Linked DNA regions of Homo sapiens: region 1 is linked to region 2. The links come from fine-mapping of genetic effects on plasma protein levels. A gene starts in region 2. The other region holds a variant in brackets. All regions are shown on one strand. Distances are from middle to middle.

Region 1 (6,866 bases), 29 kb before region 2:
GAGCTGAGATTTTAAGAATGAATAGGAATTAATGATGCAAGTAATGGGGGAAGGGCATTCCAGGTATAAGAAATAGCACAGACAAAAATATGGAGAGTAAAAAGACATAGCACTTCAAGGGAAACGCAAGCAGGTTGGCAGAGCTAGAACAATGGATCAAAAGGTATTTTTGGCTGGATAGAAGGCAGAAAAAGTGTGCAGGGACCCAGGTCACAAAGGTACTATATGCTCTTAGGTAGTCTGGCCTTATCCTGATGAAAAAAAAATTCAGCAGCAGGATATTAAGCAGGATTTCATTTCAGAAGTTATGGCAGATGGAGGTAGTAAGGTAGGACATATCTTTATCACTAGAGTCCAGGTAACCAATAATATTGTCCTGAGCTGGATTAATGAAGTGCAGAAGAAAAGCAGAAGGCACAGACTGGAGATCAAATTAGAAGGCAAAATTGACCAAACGGATGTAGGGGGTGTACGAGGAGGAGATAATAGAATGGTTTCCAATTCCACACTTGACTGATTATGTAGATGCTGGTGCCATTCTATAAAAGAGGAAGAATATATGCATTTCAGTTTTTTGTAGTTATATGGAACAGGTGGTAAAAAGGATACGTGGAAGAGAGAGATGCTCAGTTTTAGATATGTGAGTTTAAGATATCTGTGTCCTTAGTTGAGCATGGTAGCTTACGCCTGTAGTCCTAGCTACTTGGGAAGCTGAGATGGGAGAACTGTTTGAGCCCAGGAGTTCAAGACCAGCCTGGGCAGCATATCGAGAACCCATCTCAAAAAAAAAAAAAAAATCACTATGTCCTAACCAAGTGGCTATATGAACCTAAGTGGTAGTTAAAACATGGGCAAGAACATTTCTCAGTAAGGGGAAGTAGAATAAAAAGAGGATCAGAGACAAAAACCCTTGGGAACACCAATACCTGTGGGATAGACAATGGAGTAGGAAAAAGATGTAAAAGGGCAGATAGAAAATGGCGCCAGAGAAGCTAAGGATGGAACGTTTCAATTAAGGTGGAAAGACAGCAAATAATAGTAGAAAGCTTTGAAACATGTCCATTGCCTCTAGCAATATGAAGGGTGGGAGATATGAGTAAAATTGCTGCAGGTTTAAGAGGGAATGGGAAGTGATTGGTTAGGACATCAAGAACTTGGGCAGGGTAACAAATACAATACTCATTTTGAGAAGTTTAGAATGATTAAGGCAGGACAAAAGGGAGGTAATTAGAAGGGGGACATAGGGACAAGAAAGGATAGCTTAAGGTTAGAAGAACTTAAATAGGATGAGGGAAACAGCCATTAGCAATTGACAGAAGATGCTGAATGGTACAAGTTCTCCTACAAGTTAAGAGATTGAATTCCAAAAGCGTAAGACATTAAGAACTCAATACATAACAATCTGGGGTCACTTAGTAATGGGAAAAGAGATATAAATGGGCCTTGATGACATAACTGTTTGCCTCAGTTTAACCAGGAAAAGAAAACCTACTCTGAGACTGGAGAGGAGGAAGGAATGCTACAGATGGATACACTTGCAGGAAAGAAGTTAACTGCTATTTCTATTTCCCATTTCCTGTGTCTTGTTGCCCTAGTTCTCTGCCTAGCTTGCAGTCTACCAGGGACTGATAAATCAGATAACTAAGCTTATTAGAATTGTATCAAAGATAGGACAAATAGGCTGCATGGCAATTCTGATTGTGCTTGCATTCAAGAAATGTGCCAAGCTTTCCCCGCCGCCCCCACTAGCCTCTGGGGCAATAACTAGGAACAAAATGCAACCCTGGAGTTTATAAACTTTTCTGACATTGACTTGGGCTGCCAGTTCAATTATTTGTTTTACTTGCTTCTTGGTTCTGTTAAGAATCCAGAGAGCTGAGGCTGCCAGATGTGACCTGTGAATAGATGGTGTTAAGAATCCCCAGTTAGCACCTCCCCTACAATTTCCCAAATTACCACCCAGCCCATAAACTATTAGGTGACATGTACCATAAAGTATTATGCCGTGGGTTTAATATAACTTGGTTTTTTAAAAATTCATTAGTAGATTAATTTCTTATTCTGGCAACAGACTCATAGTTCTCTCTTTCCCAAATTGGGTATTTGACCTAGTACTGAAACGACTTTCATAAATACTGCCAATAAGGCTTTCATGTAAGACAAATATTCTCAGAGTAGCTCAAAAAGGCAATTCCGCTAATACAAAGATCTTTCTAGATACTGTCATTTACTTAAAATGCTCTCAATTAGTATGTGAAATATTAATTTATAATAACTATTGATTGTATGAATTCAACCTTTAAAAATTATTTAGTTAATGGAAAAAATGTTGGTAAAACAGTAACTTTAATGGGATCACATTCTGAAGAAAAGAAAATCTCATCCTATAAGTCATTTTGATCTGATCTACTTGCCTAATGTATACTTAACGCTGTATTGAAAATGCTTCTGGGGAAAAGAGAAGTGTATTTGCAGAAGAATTTAATAGCCACAGAAGCAATAAAGATTTTTAAAGATTAAAAAGTTCCATGGCCACTAAAATTTCAGTAAGAAGTTTCATGTAGATTAAAAATGCTGTTAATCTTCAATTTTCTGCCAGTTCAGACATTTTTCAAACACAATTTTCAACACAAGAACTGGAAAGCTGAGGTATACATTTACAACAAAAACTAATAAAACTTCTCTTAAAAACCAGTTGAGGCCAGGCACAGCGTTTCATGCCTATAATAACAGCAGTTCAGGAGGTCGAGGTAGGCAGATCACTTGAGGTCAGGAATTCGAGACCAGCCTGGCCAACATGGCAAAACCCCATCTCTACTAAAAAAATAAAAAGGTAGCCAGGTGTGGTGGCACTC[G/A]TCTGTAATCCCAGCTACTTGGGAGGCTGAGGCATAAGAATTGCTTGAACCTGGGAGGCGGAGGTTGCAGTGAGCTGAGATCACACCACTATACACACCCAAGCCTGGGCAACAGAGCGAGACTCCATCTCAAACAAAACAAAACAAACAAACAAACGAGTCAAAACTTCTTTTTGGAAGGATCCACATTAAGAAGCACATTCTTAGGTGATATTTTGTTATATACATTTTATATCTATAATCAAACTGTGTTAAGTAAATCACATGCATCTGAAAAGATTCGTGAAGCTACTCAATATCATTCATGAATATCTATACCAGTTTCAAATACAAGAAATGGTGATTATTAACGCAGAAAGTTAGCTACCAGGGTAAAAGAAAAGGAGATGGGTGGAAGATGAGCCCAAGACAATTTAACATTATCTACCTAAATAAACAGATGAAATACTATCATCTTAAAAATGTCCAAGTCTTATAAGAATTCCTCCTGAAAAACTGCAGGAAACTTAAGTGGTACATTTTACACTGAACTTATAGTATGTTCTTGATACGTAACAAGTAGCTTATCAGATTCCTTCTAAAATACTAAGATGTATGAAATACTATGATGCATTCCTCTGAAATGCAAATTATCACTCAAAGAAATGAGTAGCAGGATTTTAAAGCCCCCACCCACTGGATGAAGAAATTGAGACACTAGAAGTTAAACAACTTGGCCAAAGACAATGGTAGTTAACTGCAGAGTTTGCAGCCGTGATGACTAACTGGCATTCACATGGCTTAACTGGGTAATTCAGAGAAAAGTTACCAGCTACATTGCTAAGTTTTCTTATGTGATATAGTAAGGTGACTAGGTAACTATCCGTATATGGAAACTGGAAGGCTCAAGTATTTTAGAGTGATCTAAGTAAGAGAGAGACTGCACACAATCCTACGTTGGTTCAGATCAATAGCTCAATATGTATGGCTGCAATGTAAAGCTACTATGTAGAGATATTGAATATCAACCTCAACTTAGGAATTGAGAAAAGTGTACAAAGAGATACTCCGCAGCTTTTATTATGAAATAAATATTCTAGATCACTGGTTCCCTAACTGACTATGCATCAGGTTCAGCAGGGGAGCTTACACACACACACACACACACACACACACACACACACACACACTCTCTCTCTCTCTCTCTGTCTCTCTCTCTCTCTGTCTCCTCATTAGACCTACTACGTTAAATCCTCTAAGGATGCAGCCTGGAATCTATTTTTATAAAACGCTTCCCAGGTTGATCTTATTCTGTAGCCTGCCTAGCATCAATCGAGGCCTATGTATGGGACTATTCTTCCAGATGGTAATATACAGACAGAACATCAGAACATTTTGCAAATAATTCAGTTCTACTTCTAAACATTTCTAAAGTTTTTCCATTTGAAAGAAATTGCCATTATGTAGTATACAAAATCTTGACTTTAACCAACGGGAAAAAAGGTAAGCAAATTGCCTTAAGAAATAAAAGAATCTTTATTGTTTTAGAAGCAATTTTGAGCAAACAGACAGGCAAATATCTAAAGATACCATACATCAACTAGTGGTTTAAACATTTGAAGAAAAAACATGGAAAGTATTTACATGGACCAGTTTCTTTATACAAATGCTAAAACATGAAAAACACCCAAAACCAGATAGAGCGTTACCATCAAGGTATGAATCTAGTAATACAAATAAAACTACAAAAGGTACAAAGAACATGTAGCTATAGGAAATAATAGTGTAAATAGCAGTATATAAACTGGCCCATGTAAAATACAAAAATATTCACTGAAGTCAGGTTTTCTATAAAACAGTGTTTATTAGAGGTATTTTACTATGAATCAGGCATATAATCTGAATGTAGAAACTTTTAGAAATATTAACAGCATTCAGTCAGTGCCATGCACTTGTGCTTCCAATTATTTTTTTAAAGCTGCTTTGTTTTGACTCATGTGAAATAGTTAAGGCCTACATTCTTATACACATTATCCATCTTACAAGGTTAACAATTTTACACTAAAACACAGTTTAAATTAAAAACGATTTTGAAAAATTACATCTATATTTAATCCCTAAGAAGTGTTTTAAGCTGGTAATGCAGCTCGCTGTAGCTCTAAGAGAGGGGTTAGTCAGGAATCTGATCTTGAGCCATAAAGGTTTTCAGGCTAAACAAAGAACAAATTTAAGTGACGGAAAATATTTATAATTCCAATATAACTCAGTTATATTGTTATAAAAATACCCATGCTAGCATGCAACTGCCTATATATGTGTGCATATATATATATATGTCTGTGTGTGTGTATTGATCCATTCAATGTCAATATTTTGGAACCCAGACAATTTTCTCATTTTCTAGTGAATGGGAGGCACATAATCCCACCACAAAAAAAAAAAAAACACGAAAAAACAACCCCACAGGAACCTTCCATATATGGCTGCATATTAACAATTTTAATATTTGCTCAGCCATTCCAACACACACCAAAAAAGTTCTCCTAGAAGCAGCAAGAAATATTTGATGTGTTAACTACCAAGCTGATGTATTTTGCTTTCTCCTATAAACATTAGGTGGTACACGGTAATTTGACAATTGGTACATCTCTCAGACCACAAAACTGAACACAAAGCACGTGAATTAAAAATGATTCTACCATAATGAATAATAACAACGAAAGTTTTGATTAGCACAGAACCATTTAAATGTGAAAGCCAAATTAGTGATGTTGTAGCAATCAATGCAAGCTGGAAACAAAGAACAACTTTTTAATGGATTAAGATAAAACCAAGACTTTTTGGTTAGATGCAAGTTTTGTTTGTTTGTTTGTTTTGTTTTGTTTTGTTTTGAGATGGAGTTTCGTTTTTGTCGCCCAGGCTGGAGTGCAATGGTGCGCTCTTGGCTCACCGCAACCTCTGCCTCCCGGGTTCAAGTGATTCTCCTGCCTCAGCCTCCCGAGTAACTGGGATTACAGGCGCCCACCACCACGCCCAGCTAATTTTTTGTATTTCTGATAGAGATGGGGTTTCACCATGTTGGCCAGGCTGGTCTCAAACTCCTGGCCTCAAGTGATCCACCCACTTCGGCCTCCCAAAGTGCTGGGATTACAGGCGTGAGCCGCCACGCCCAGCCTAGATGCAAGTTATTTTATAAGTGTAAGTGCACTTCGTTATCTAGGTTCTAGGACACACTGGCATTTCTTAAGAAAAAGAAAATAATAAAATACATCACTATCAACAAGAAATGTTGGAAGGCTAAAGAGAAATCTGCATTAATTTTAGTACTGCATACAGAGGCCAATTTATGAGCACAAAGTACTAATGCCCTCAATTGGCACTGGCAAGCAATTATCTCTAAAGCACCTAAAAAATGGATTGAAATGCCCAGTTGGAATAGTCTTATATATTGCAATTTAAAAGATTGAAATATCCAGTTTTTTTAAAAAAAAGATTAAACAATAAGATTAATACCTACTCTAAATTTTAAAAAGCTTTTGTATCTTTTGTCATTACAGCCACATAAATACAAATGTATTCAAAAGGCATTAGAAAAGCATTTATTGCTAAGAACATAATAATACCAGCCCCTGTTCAAATCTACTATTATATCTCTCAAAGGTCAAATATGCAGCAATGCCAAAGTAGCTAAGTTAACCTGCAAACAAAAATCACACACACACACACACACACACACACACACACACACACAAAAAGAGCAAAAGGAGCAAGTACAAATCCACGGTAGAACATGTTGTTCCAACTCAACTACCTGCAGGGAAAAAAAATCTCTTTTTCAAAAATTGTTTTTTCTAAACGGTGTATTTTTAGTCTGAATGTCTAAAATGAAAACACTGAAATACTAATTCAAGACAGTAAAATAGAACTTATAATCCAGTGATTTTGCACATCTTTTGCTGTAAAAATAACAGTTTTAAATTCCTTGGTTGGAAAAACCAAAGTCAGGCAACTAATTTGTAGTTGATAGTTTTT
Region 2 (9,801 bases):
AGACGGATCACTTGAGGTCAGGAGTTCGAGACCAGCCTGGCCAACATGGTGAAACCCCATCTCCACTAAAAATTTGCTGGGCTTGGTGGTGGTCACCTATAATCCTAGCTACTTGGGAGGCTGAGGCAGGAGAATCGCTTGAACCTGTGAGGTAGAGGTTGCAGTGAGCTGAGATCGCGCCACTGCACTCCAGCCTGGGCAACAGATAGAGACTCCGTCTCAAAAAAAAAAAATCATAACGAGGAGGAGGAAGAGGAGGGGTTGGTCTTGCTGTCTTCAGGGTGGTAGAGGTGAAATAAACTCATGTATAAGTAGATCCACACACAGTTCAAACTTGTGTTGTTCAAGGGTCAACTACACTTCCAAAGCCCTCCTTATTTCCCTTTCCCTTCCCAAGGGTTACTATTCCCTTCCCAAGGGTAACCATTATCCTGATTTCTGACACTATAGATTAATTTTATCCATTTTTCAACTTGATATAAATAAAATCATTCACTATGCTCTCTTTTGTGTCTGCTTTCTTTCCTCAATTTTAGGTTTTGTGAGATTCACCCATGTTATGCATAATTGCAGTCTGTGCTCACTGCTGTATAACCTTCTATGATCAGGTGAATACAGGCCAGGTGGGGTGGTTCACGCCTGTAATCCCAGCACTTTGGGAGGCCAAGGAGGGTGGATCACTTGAGGTCAGGAGTTCGAGACCAGCCTGGCCACCATGGCCAAATCCCACCTCTACTGAAAATATAAAAATTAGCTGGGCATGGTGGCACATGCCTGTAATCTCAGCTACTCAGGAGGCTGATACAGGAGAATCGTTTGAACCCGGGAGGCAGAGGTTGCAGTGAGCCAAGATCATGCCAATGCACTCCACCAGCCTGGGCAACAAGAATGAAACTCTGTCTCAAAAAAAAACAAAAACAAACAAACAAAAAAACTACTTATCTATGCTACCTTTAATGGGCATTTAGTTTCCAGTGTGATTCTATTACAAACACTGCTGCAAACATTCTTGCACATATTAGTAAACACATGTATGCGTGTATGTTGGCTGTATATCTAGGAATGAAACTGTGGGGCCAAAGGGTATGCATTATATCCCAGTTCTTTTTAATAAATTCTTTTCTGCTTAAAATCAATCAGATTGTATTTCTCTTCCTTGCAATTAAGAACCTGGGCTGATATGCTATCTGTTTTTTCAGTAGCCATTTTCTCCACAAAGCTTTCCCTGACTATAAAAGCCCTCAAGGAGCAGTAATAATGCACATCCCATTTCAGTATATTTTACATTATCCTGAATTATTCAGTTATTTTATAGCAGTAAATCCTGTCCCTCCTACTGTCATAAGCTCCAACACAGCAGTTTTCAACTGTCACTTCATAACAAACTGGTGTGCCATGGTAAATTATAGTATACAGTAAGTAATTTGTTACTAATAAAAAAAGTACCAAGTCTGTGAATGAATGATATATATGGATAGATTCAAGATTCCCTTTAGATAACATTTCTGTCACTCGTTTGAACTCCAGTATGCTCCCTTGATCAGATGATCTGATGTATCCCACAACCCCTAGCAGTGTGTCTTTTATATGAATGTCATCTATCATGAGTGTCATGGTAGGGGACACCATGTGTATTACTTTTCCTCTATCTCCTATCATTCCAAGTAGTGCTGAATGCATATTAGATTTTCAATAAATACTGATTAATTATATCAAGGTGAAAACACACTGCAATAGGGACCCAAAACATAGCTTAATCTAATTACAGAGAGGCCAGTCCTTTAGCTCTTCCAAATCTTGAACATATCAGTCTTCTGGATATTCCCTCAAACCCCATGTTGGGTTTCACTTCAATAAATTTTGACATGGATGTCAAGCTAGGAACAGAGCTTTTCCCAAAAGGTAAGTTTACAGTTGAAATATTTACACTTTATTAAAAAGTATCTAGCAAGCAATTTCCATCCTTATTGCTGTGTTTGATTTTACAATACCCAATTTTTAAAAGGCTTTATGACATTAAAAAACCATAGATGAATATATTCTAGAGTGTGTAATTTTAGAGCTGAGAGTTTATTCTCTAAATAAAAGAAAAAGGTATGCCTCAAAATCAACCGTTCTCAAAGTCAAATATCCTCTCAATCCTGTTTTCCAAAAAGGTCATTTGTAAATTCTTTTAGAATGCAGACCTTGACCGGGCAGTGGCTCACACCAGTAATCCTAGCACTTTGGGAGGCCAAGGGGGGCAGATCACTTGAGCTCAAGAGTTCAAGACCAGCCTGGGCAACATGGCAAGACCCCATCTATACTAAAAATACAAAAGAATAGCTGGGTGTGATGGTGCATGCCTGTGGTCTCAACTACTCGGGAGGCTGACATGGGAGGATCGCTTGAGCCCATGAGGCAGAGGTTGCAGTGAGCCAAGATCACTCCACTGCACTCCAGCTGGGGGAATGGAACAAGACCCTGTCAAAAAAAAAAAAAAAAACCTCTCACAGAGAACACAGACCTTACTTCCCCAAGTGTATGACACTGCAAAAAGTGGCTAGGTTTTTGCAAGTCTATTTGACCCAAAGTATAGCTGAAAACATAAACACACAAAATTAGGGGTGGGGGAAGAACATAATGCTAGCAATAAAACAAAACCAATAAAAAGAAACCAAACAATGATCCAAGATACAATGGATTGATTATATAATGAAGTGATTAAGAGTCCCCATTCCTGGAGTGGAAGAGCTAGAACTCAAATCTGGCAGTCCAACTTCCTAGCTGTGAGACTTTGGGCAAGTTACCCTTGTTTAGAATTATAGTGCATATTTCTCCAATAGGTTCTTTGAAAGCATATAAACCCTTCAGAGCTAAAAGAAATTTGCCAAACAAGTTAGATACCAATTTACAAGTCTCCTTTTTAGTAAACACAGCACCTAAAGGGAACCTTCCCAAGTTTTAGCTTTATGTTTACTTTCATCATATTAAATTCTGGACTCTTGTCCTCAAACTCATGAATTTAGAATGATGTTGAGCAAAAGGTCTTTTTAAAATACAGGACACAGAGGCATACGGTACCTATTTATCTTTGTTTTCTATTCAGAGTGATGGTTTTCCTACAAGTTTAAGTCAGATTAACTGTTTCTCCTTTATAATTCCTAATAATAGGTACACTCATTGCATTCAGTTACTTTATACCCTTGCTTTTGGTAAGTTTCTTAAAGGAGAAAAGCAATATGATTTTAAAGTAAGAATGTTGAACACATGAAAAAGAGTATTAAAAGTTAATAAAAATATGTTTTTAAGCTATAAAATGACTTAATTTGTTAAGGCCAAAGAGTGGGTAAGGAAACAAGATTCAACACTACTCAACTAATGGAAAGTGCTTATTGTTGAGCAGTGTTTGGCACACCTCCAGAATTCTTTCACAATGCACAGCAGGATACCAACAAGTACTTATAAAGTATACTTTTGGGTCTGAGGGGATCTCTGATCACTTTAATAAGAAATTATGATCAGAATACTTTTGCACTACAGAAAGAAGAGCAGCCTTCCTGCATCAAGGGTCATTTAAATCAGCTCCAGTGCTACGAAATAATGCTTGGTTATAGACAAAATCTACCCAAAGATATAGGGGAAGAAAGCTGTTCTTTTGGGACATATTTGAGTATCTATAACCCTATCAGATGTGACAATCTGATATTTGGGACATATTTGAATATCTATAACCCTATCAGATATGATAATCAATGACTAACAAACTAATCTGGTATTTGGGACATATTTGAATATCTATAACCCTATCAGATGTGATAATCAATGACTAACAAACTAACAAGCCTGTCCTTTCTTATCTTCTAGCTTGACTTCTGTTTTTCGTTTTTTTTTTGTTTTTTTTTAGGGTTCAGAATTTTTCAGTCCTTTACAGTATCTCTATTATAACTAGAATAATTTGGCAGAACCTCGAAATCAAAGTTATCAGTTAAATGAAATGTGTTAAGCCTATAGAAAAATCTTAGTGCTTGTTTTCTCTCAGAGAAAACCTAACTTTGTGAAAACCTAACTCTCCTCACCAAGGAACTCCTAATTCTCCATATTACCCCCTTCGAGACTACGGAGGTATATCTGAAGGAGTACAGGTAAGAAACTAGCATTATTATATGGGATTATACATTAGTAAATTACTGTATAATTATCCGTACTGCTTAGCACTGATCTTGAAGTTTTCAATCCAAAAGAACTTCTTGCAAAACATCATTTAAAATTCATGGAAGAAAAAGGAGACTAAATGAGTCTAGTTTACCACCATATCCCTAGTGCCCACCAATGAATATCTTCAACAAAAATTCACTACGGGTTAACCATGTACCAGACCCTATGCTAGGTAGGCAATGGGAAGTAACAGTACATAAGATCGTCTCTGCTCTTAGAGACTGCTACCATAGGAGAGACTTGACTAAAACTAGGGGGAAACAAAAAAGCGTGGAAAATAGGCTAGTAACCTAAGATTTTGCAAATGATAAGATTTATTCCTATTTCCCCAGATGGTCACATGGCTGGCCTCCTGCCAACACCCAGGTCTCTGCCCAAATGTCACCCGATAACGGAAGGCCCTCTGACCACATAATATAAAGAAGGATCATCCACCATCACCCATTCCTATCATCTACTCATTCTCCTTTCTCATTACCTGTGTAATTTTCTTCATAGTGTTTTTGTTTTGTTTTGTTTTGAGACAGAGTTTTGCTCTTGTCCCCCAGGCTGGAGGACAGTGGCATGATCTCGGCTCACTGCAACTTCCACCTCCTGGATTCAAGCAATTCTCCTGCCTCAGCCTCCCGAGTAGCTGGGACTACAGGTGCTGGCCACCATGCCCTTGTATTTTTAGTAGAGATGGGGTTTCACCATGTTGGCTAGGCTGGTCTCGAACTCCTGACCTCAGGTGATTTGCCCACCTTGACCTCCCAAAGTGCTGGGATTACAGGCGTGAGCCACCATGCCCGGCCTCTTCATAGTGTTTATCACTATCTGACATTATATTATTTATCTGTTGAGCTTTCTTCTCCCATTAAAATGTAAGCTCCATGAGAGCAGGAACCTCATCTGTCTTATCCATTCCTCTGTCCCTTTCACCTAATATAGTGGCTGGGACACAATAGGCATTCAGTAAACGTGTGGAAGGGAGAGGCTCCTACCAGTAACATACACTAAGAATATTTCTGTGAGGTTTTTCCCACCCAGAAAAGCCTCAAACCTAAAAAAAAAAAATTCTGAACCCTAAAAAAACAAACAAACAAACCAAAAAACAGAAGTCAAGCTAGTTATAAGAATCAATAACCACAGAAGAATCCTGAAATCTATGATATCACAAAAGGACCATAATTAGGCAATTATATAAAGAAAGGATTTTCACCCACTATCCACTTTATAACACCTCTAAATCATATAGCTTCTCTTCGGAAAGTTGTCTGGTCAGTTACAATTCATCCAAATAAACACCAGCATAATTTAATCTCTATGAAAAAGACCAATATATAGCCTCTAAGAATCCTTTTCTGTACTTATTCTAAAGCTGCTGTTTTTAAAAGGTTATGGGTGAAGCTGGGATAGAGTTATAAAGTTACAAAGTCAAACTGGCACAGCTAGAGCACTAATGCTAATAAGACTATAAATTTAGGACAGGTCCTCCTTCATTGGCACTCCGTACAGTACCCAGGCACAGTTCTAGCTACATAGTAGGTACTTTACAAATATTTATTGATTTAGCTACATATTAGGTACTTTACAAATATTTATTAAGTTTTCAAAAACCTATTATTGGTATCCATTTTGATATAGAAAAGTAACTTGTGCAAAACCCACCAAGCAACTGCTAAATTCTTGACAGAAAAAGCTATATGGGAGGACTTTGGGCTCCACACTGAACCAAGAGCCATCAGAAAATGCAGCTGTATAGAAAAATGGTTTCTATTTCATCCTGGAACCTCTTAAAAATCAGATCTAGGTACATTATTAATATTTACTTTTCCAAATCCTGCTCTGAACTTGGAGGCGGAGGGAATCAATCTTGGAAATTTTCCAAGAGGAAGAATCTAGTTAGTCCTGATCAATAAATGGCAAACTAGCAGATGAGCTGATGGGTTCTTTTATGTGCTTCTTTTTGCATGTTTATTTTCTGCAGTGAGTAAGCATTGCTTTTGTAAAAACAAAACAAAAAAGCTTTCATTAAAAAACAAAAAAAAATTTAATGACATGAAAGCCAACAAGTAGGACAACTATTATTTTTTTCACTTTCCCAAAACAATAACAGTGTTGTATTTGTGCACAGATTCAATTGGCAGGGAACTACTGATTAACAGATGCCTTGGTCAGATGTGTTCTAGTCACTGATAAGGTACTTTCCATTGTAAACAATCCTTTCTTAGGGTCAGTTGGCCCTCAGTAAGTGCTCCAAGGTACAGTTAAGGCTTCCAATTAAGTATTCAAGCAAAGCCTGCCTCAAGGCCGCCTTTCAGAAGTGCTACAGAAGAGTTTCCTGCGCGCTGTGAACAGTTGGACTACATCAGGGATTCCCAAAGTTTTGGTGTCAGGACCCCTTTACTTTCTTATCCACTGAGGACTTCACAGAGGTTTATGTGAGTCATATGTATTGGTATTTACAGTATTAGAAATTAAAACTGAGAAATGAATAAAATATAAGAACATCAGAGTGGTGAGGTCATCACATGTTACGTAGCCACTGGAAAACTCTGCTGTACACTGGTGAGAGGATGAGAGTGAAAAGGACAAAGGACAAATAACTTCTTTTTTTTTTTTTTTTTTTGAGACAGAGTTTCGCTCATGTTGCCCAGGCTGGAATGCAGTGGCGCAATCTTGGCTCACCGCAACCTCCGCCTCCTGGGTTCAAGCGATTCTCCTGCCTCGGCCTCCCAAGTAGCTGGGATTACAGGCATGTGCCACGACACCGGCTAATTTTTCTATTTTTAGTAGAGACTGGGTTTCACCATGTTGGTCAGGCTGGTCTTGAACTCCTGATCTCAGGTGATCCGCCCGCCTCAGCCTCCCAAAGTGCTGGGATTACAGGCGTGAGCCACTGTGCCCAGCAGAAAAGGACAAATACCTTCTTAACCTTATTCCGAAGTTTTGATTTCACAGACGCATGAAAAGGTCCTCGAGAGTCACTGAATTAGATAATCAAGAACCCTTCCAATACTATGGTTTTCGAGCAGGATTTATCAATGTTGGCACCATTGACATTTTCAGGGAGATGATTCTTTGTTGTCAGGGGCTGCCCTGTGCTTAGTTAGGATGTTTAGCAGCATCCTTGGCCTCTACCCACTAGATGCTAAAAGCAATCCCCCAGTTGTTACAACCAAAAATGTCTCCAGATGTTGCCAAATGTCCCCTGGTTGAGAATCACTATTCCAGGGTGTTGATTTCATTCTACTGAAATGTGAATTACAAAATGTATACCTCTCACTGCTTTCTCAGACCCCTAATATGTCTATTTCTTCCCCACTCCCATCTGGGTCTGTTCTTTATGTTATTTTATTAAGTCACAAATAGCAAGAGCAGGTGGGTAGCAACAAGCACAGCATGAATCAAAGTCAGGAAGAGACACTTTAGTCAAAGTTCACTTTTAGGCATTAAAGTTGTTAGCGACCCACTGCCTATTAGGGCACAACACAATCAGCGAACATTCACCCAGCCATTTATTTATTGATTTATTTATTTTTATTTTTTGAGACAGAGTTTCACTCTTGTCGCCCAGGCTGGAGTGCAATGGCGCAATCTTGGCTCACTGCAACCTCCGCCTTCTGGGTTCAAGCGATTCTCCTGCCTCAGCCGCCCAAGCAGCTGGGATTACAGGCATGTGCCACGACGCCCGGCTAATTTTTGTATTTTTAGTAGAGACGGGGTTTCACCATGTTGGCCAGGCTGGTCTTGAATTCCTGACCTCAGGTGATACACCCACCTCGGCCTCCCAAAGTGCTGGGATTACAGGCATGAGCCACCACGCCCGGCCCCATCCAGCCATTCTTAGGCCCTGGTAACAACCCAATCCTTAGCAAGTTTGTCTACCTGCTCCCTGCACCCCCAAAATATGAGGTAATAGGCTAGCTGTGTGATGGGGAAGAAAGAAAAGAAGAAACTCTGAAGGCAAAGAGGTAGTCTACCAAACTCAAATACTCCACCCCCAAAACCTCACATCTGGGAGGCCCTCCTAACTGAAACGTCTGGGGATTTTTTTGTCAGCGTCTGGCTGGGAGGAAGTAGCAAAACTGGGAGAAAATCGACATCCTCAATACCTCCAAGTCAGATGTGCACTCCCCATCAAAGTTCCCCCTGAACCCCTTAGTCTCCAGAGGTTGGGTCCAAGTTTTCTTTCCTGGAAATTGCCCCAGCTACCTTAGGTTCCTTCGCCCTTAAAACTATGACTACCAAACTCAAACCCAGCATCACTCCTAATCTCTTGAATCATCCTTTCTTCACAGTCTCAAATTCCAACCTTCAAAATGCCCAACCCTGTCACTGCCCCTGCCCCTCAGGCTCTACTGTCCTATCTGTCCCATCTGTCCCCCACCCACACACTTCTCCCAAGCTACTCCAGGCAGGCATGGTCTTCTCTCTTAATTTCCTATCTCACCCCATAGTTTTTCCACCATCTTCAAAACTCTTCCCTGATCTCAGCAAACCAAGACTCTCCTAATTGTCTCTGGCGCCCAAAATCTGCATGTACCACCCTCCTACGCTCACTCCTCAGTGTTTTCCCCAAGTTACTCTTTCCACGCTGACCCTCTCCACGCTTCACTCCTCCCAGCCTACTCCCTCGGCGTCCACCCCCCGTTACCGGCCCCTTCTTACTCTCCTGGGCCCTTCTTCCCCGCCATCCGTCGGTCAGGCCTTCTCTAGGTCACCGCTTGCCTCCCCGGGCCAACCGCCGCCGCCCAGTGTTAGCTGCTGAGCCTCTCAACCCCCTCCCCCTCGGACCAGTCTTTCAGGTTGTAGCTTTGAACTGGTGCCCCGGGCCCAGGCGGACAGACTAATCGGGAGGGCCCGACAACTCACCCAGGACTAGGCAGACCAGAACGAGCCCTGAGCCCGGAACCGGGAAGAGGCGGAAGCACACCATGACCCCGCAGAGCAGGCGGCGACGGCGGCGACGGCGGCGGTACAACAACAGCTGCAACACCAGGGAAAAGGCTCGCTGGACCTGGGTCAAGAGCACTGATGACCACCGACCACAGCCTTGCAAAAGCCAGGAATCGGCGCTTCAGTGCGAGTCATAAGACTAGGGGCGGGGCTCTTTCTTGCTTACAGCCAATCTCCGCGCTTGAAAGCGGCGAGAGGGGTGGTGATGTAGCGGCCGGTGGGCGGGGCGACCACGCCCTGGCTTTTTGGTTCACAGCCCTTCCTATGCTCCTGAGAGATATGCGCGGACGGCATTTTCTTTTTCTTTTTCTTTCTTTTTTTTTTTTTTTTTTAATTTTACTTTAAGTTCTGGGATACATGTGCAGAATGTGCAGCTTTGTTACATAGGTATACATGTGCCATGGTGGTTTACTGCACCTATCAACCCGTCATCTAGGTTTTAAGCCCCACATGCATTAGGTATTTCTCCTAATGCTCTCCCTCCCCTTGGCCCCCACCCCTTGACAGGCCCCCGTGTGTGTTGTTCCCCTCCCTGTGTCCATGTGTTCTCATTGTTCAACTCCCACTTATGAGTGAGAACATGCAGTGTTTTGTTTTCTGTTCCTGTGTTAGTTTGCTAAGGATGATGGCTTCCAGCTTCATCCATGTCCCTGCAAAGGACAT

Which allele goes with the higher level. Positions count from the first base shown, and alleles are read on the strand shown. Strength reflects both the effect of a copy and how common the allele is.
For the plasma level of the protein whose gene starts at base 9,245 in region 2, allele A in region 1 goes with a lower level than allele G (strong association).

The links. PIP is the posterior inclusion probability: the model's chance that the variant is causal. The UK Biobank Pharma Proteomics Project read protein levels with antibody pairs (Olink). The fine-mapping took linkage between variants from a reference panel, not from the people measured, so its PIPs are less certain.
Region 1: its variant is fine-mapped to the plasma level of the LAMP2 protein (UK Biobank, PIP above 0.99).

Annotation. Positions count from the first base shown.
Region 1 is chrX:120,432,148-120,439,013 of GRCh38, forward strand. The region is part of intron 8 of LAMP2 (lysosomal associated membrane protein 2); the gene reads right to left. Among named protein-coding and RNA genes, the nearest start is that of LAMP2, 34 kb to the right of the region's middle. The variant G/A (reference allele first, on the strand shown) is at 2,856.
Region 2 is chrX:120,460,052-120,469,852 of GRCh38, forward strand. LAMP2 (lysosomal associated membrane protein 2) reads right to left here and starts at 9,245. Exons shown (of 9, transcript NM_002294.3): 1 at 9,055-9,245. The coding sequence starts at 9,118. RefSeq lists a silencer at 9,183-9,447.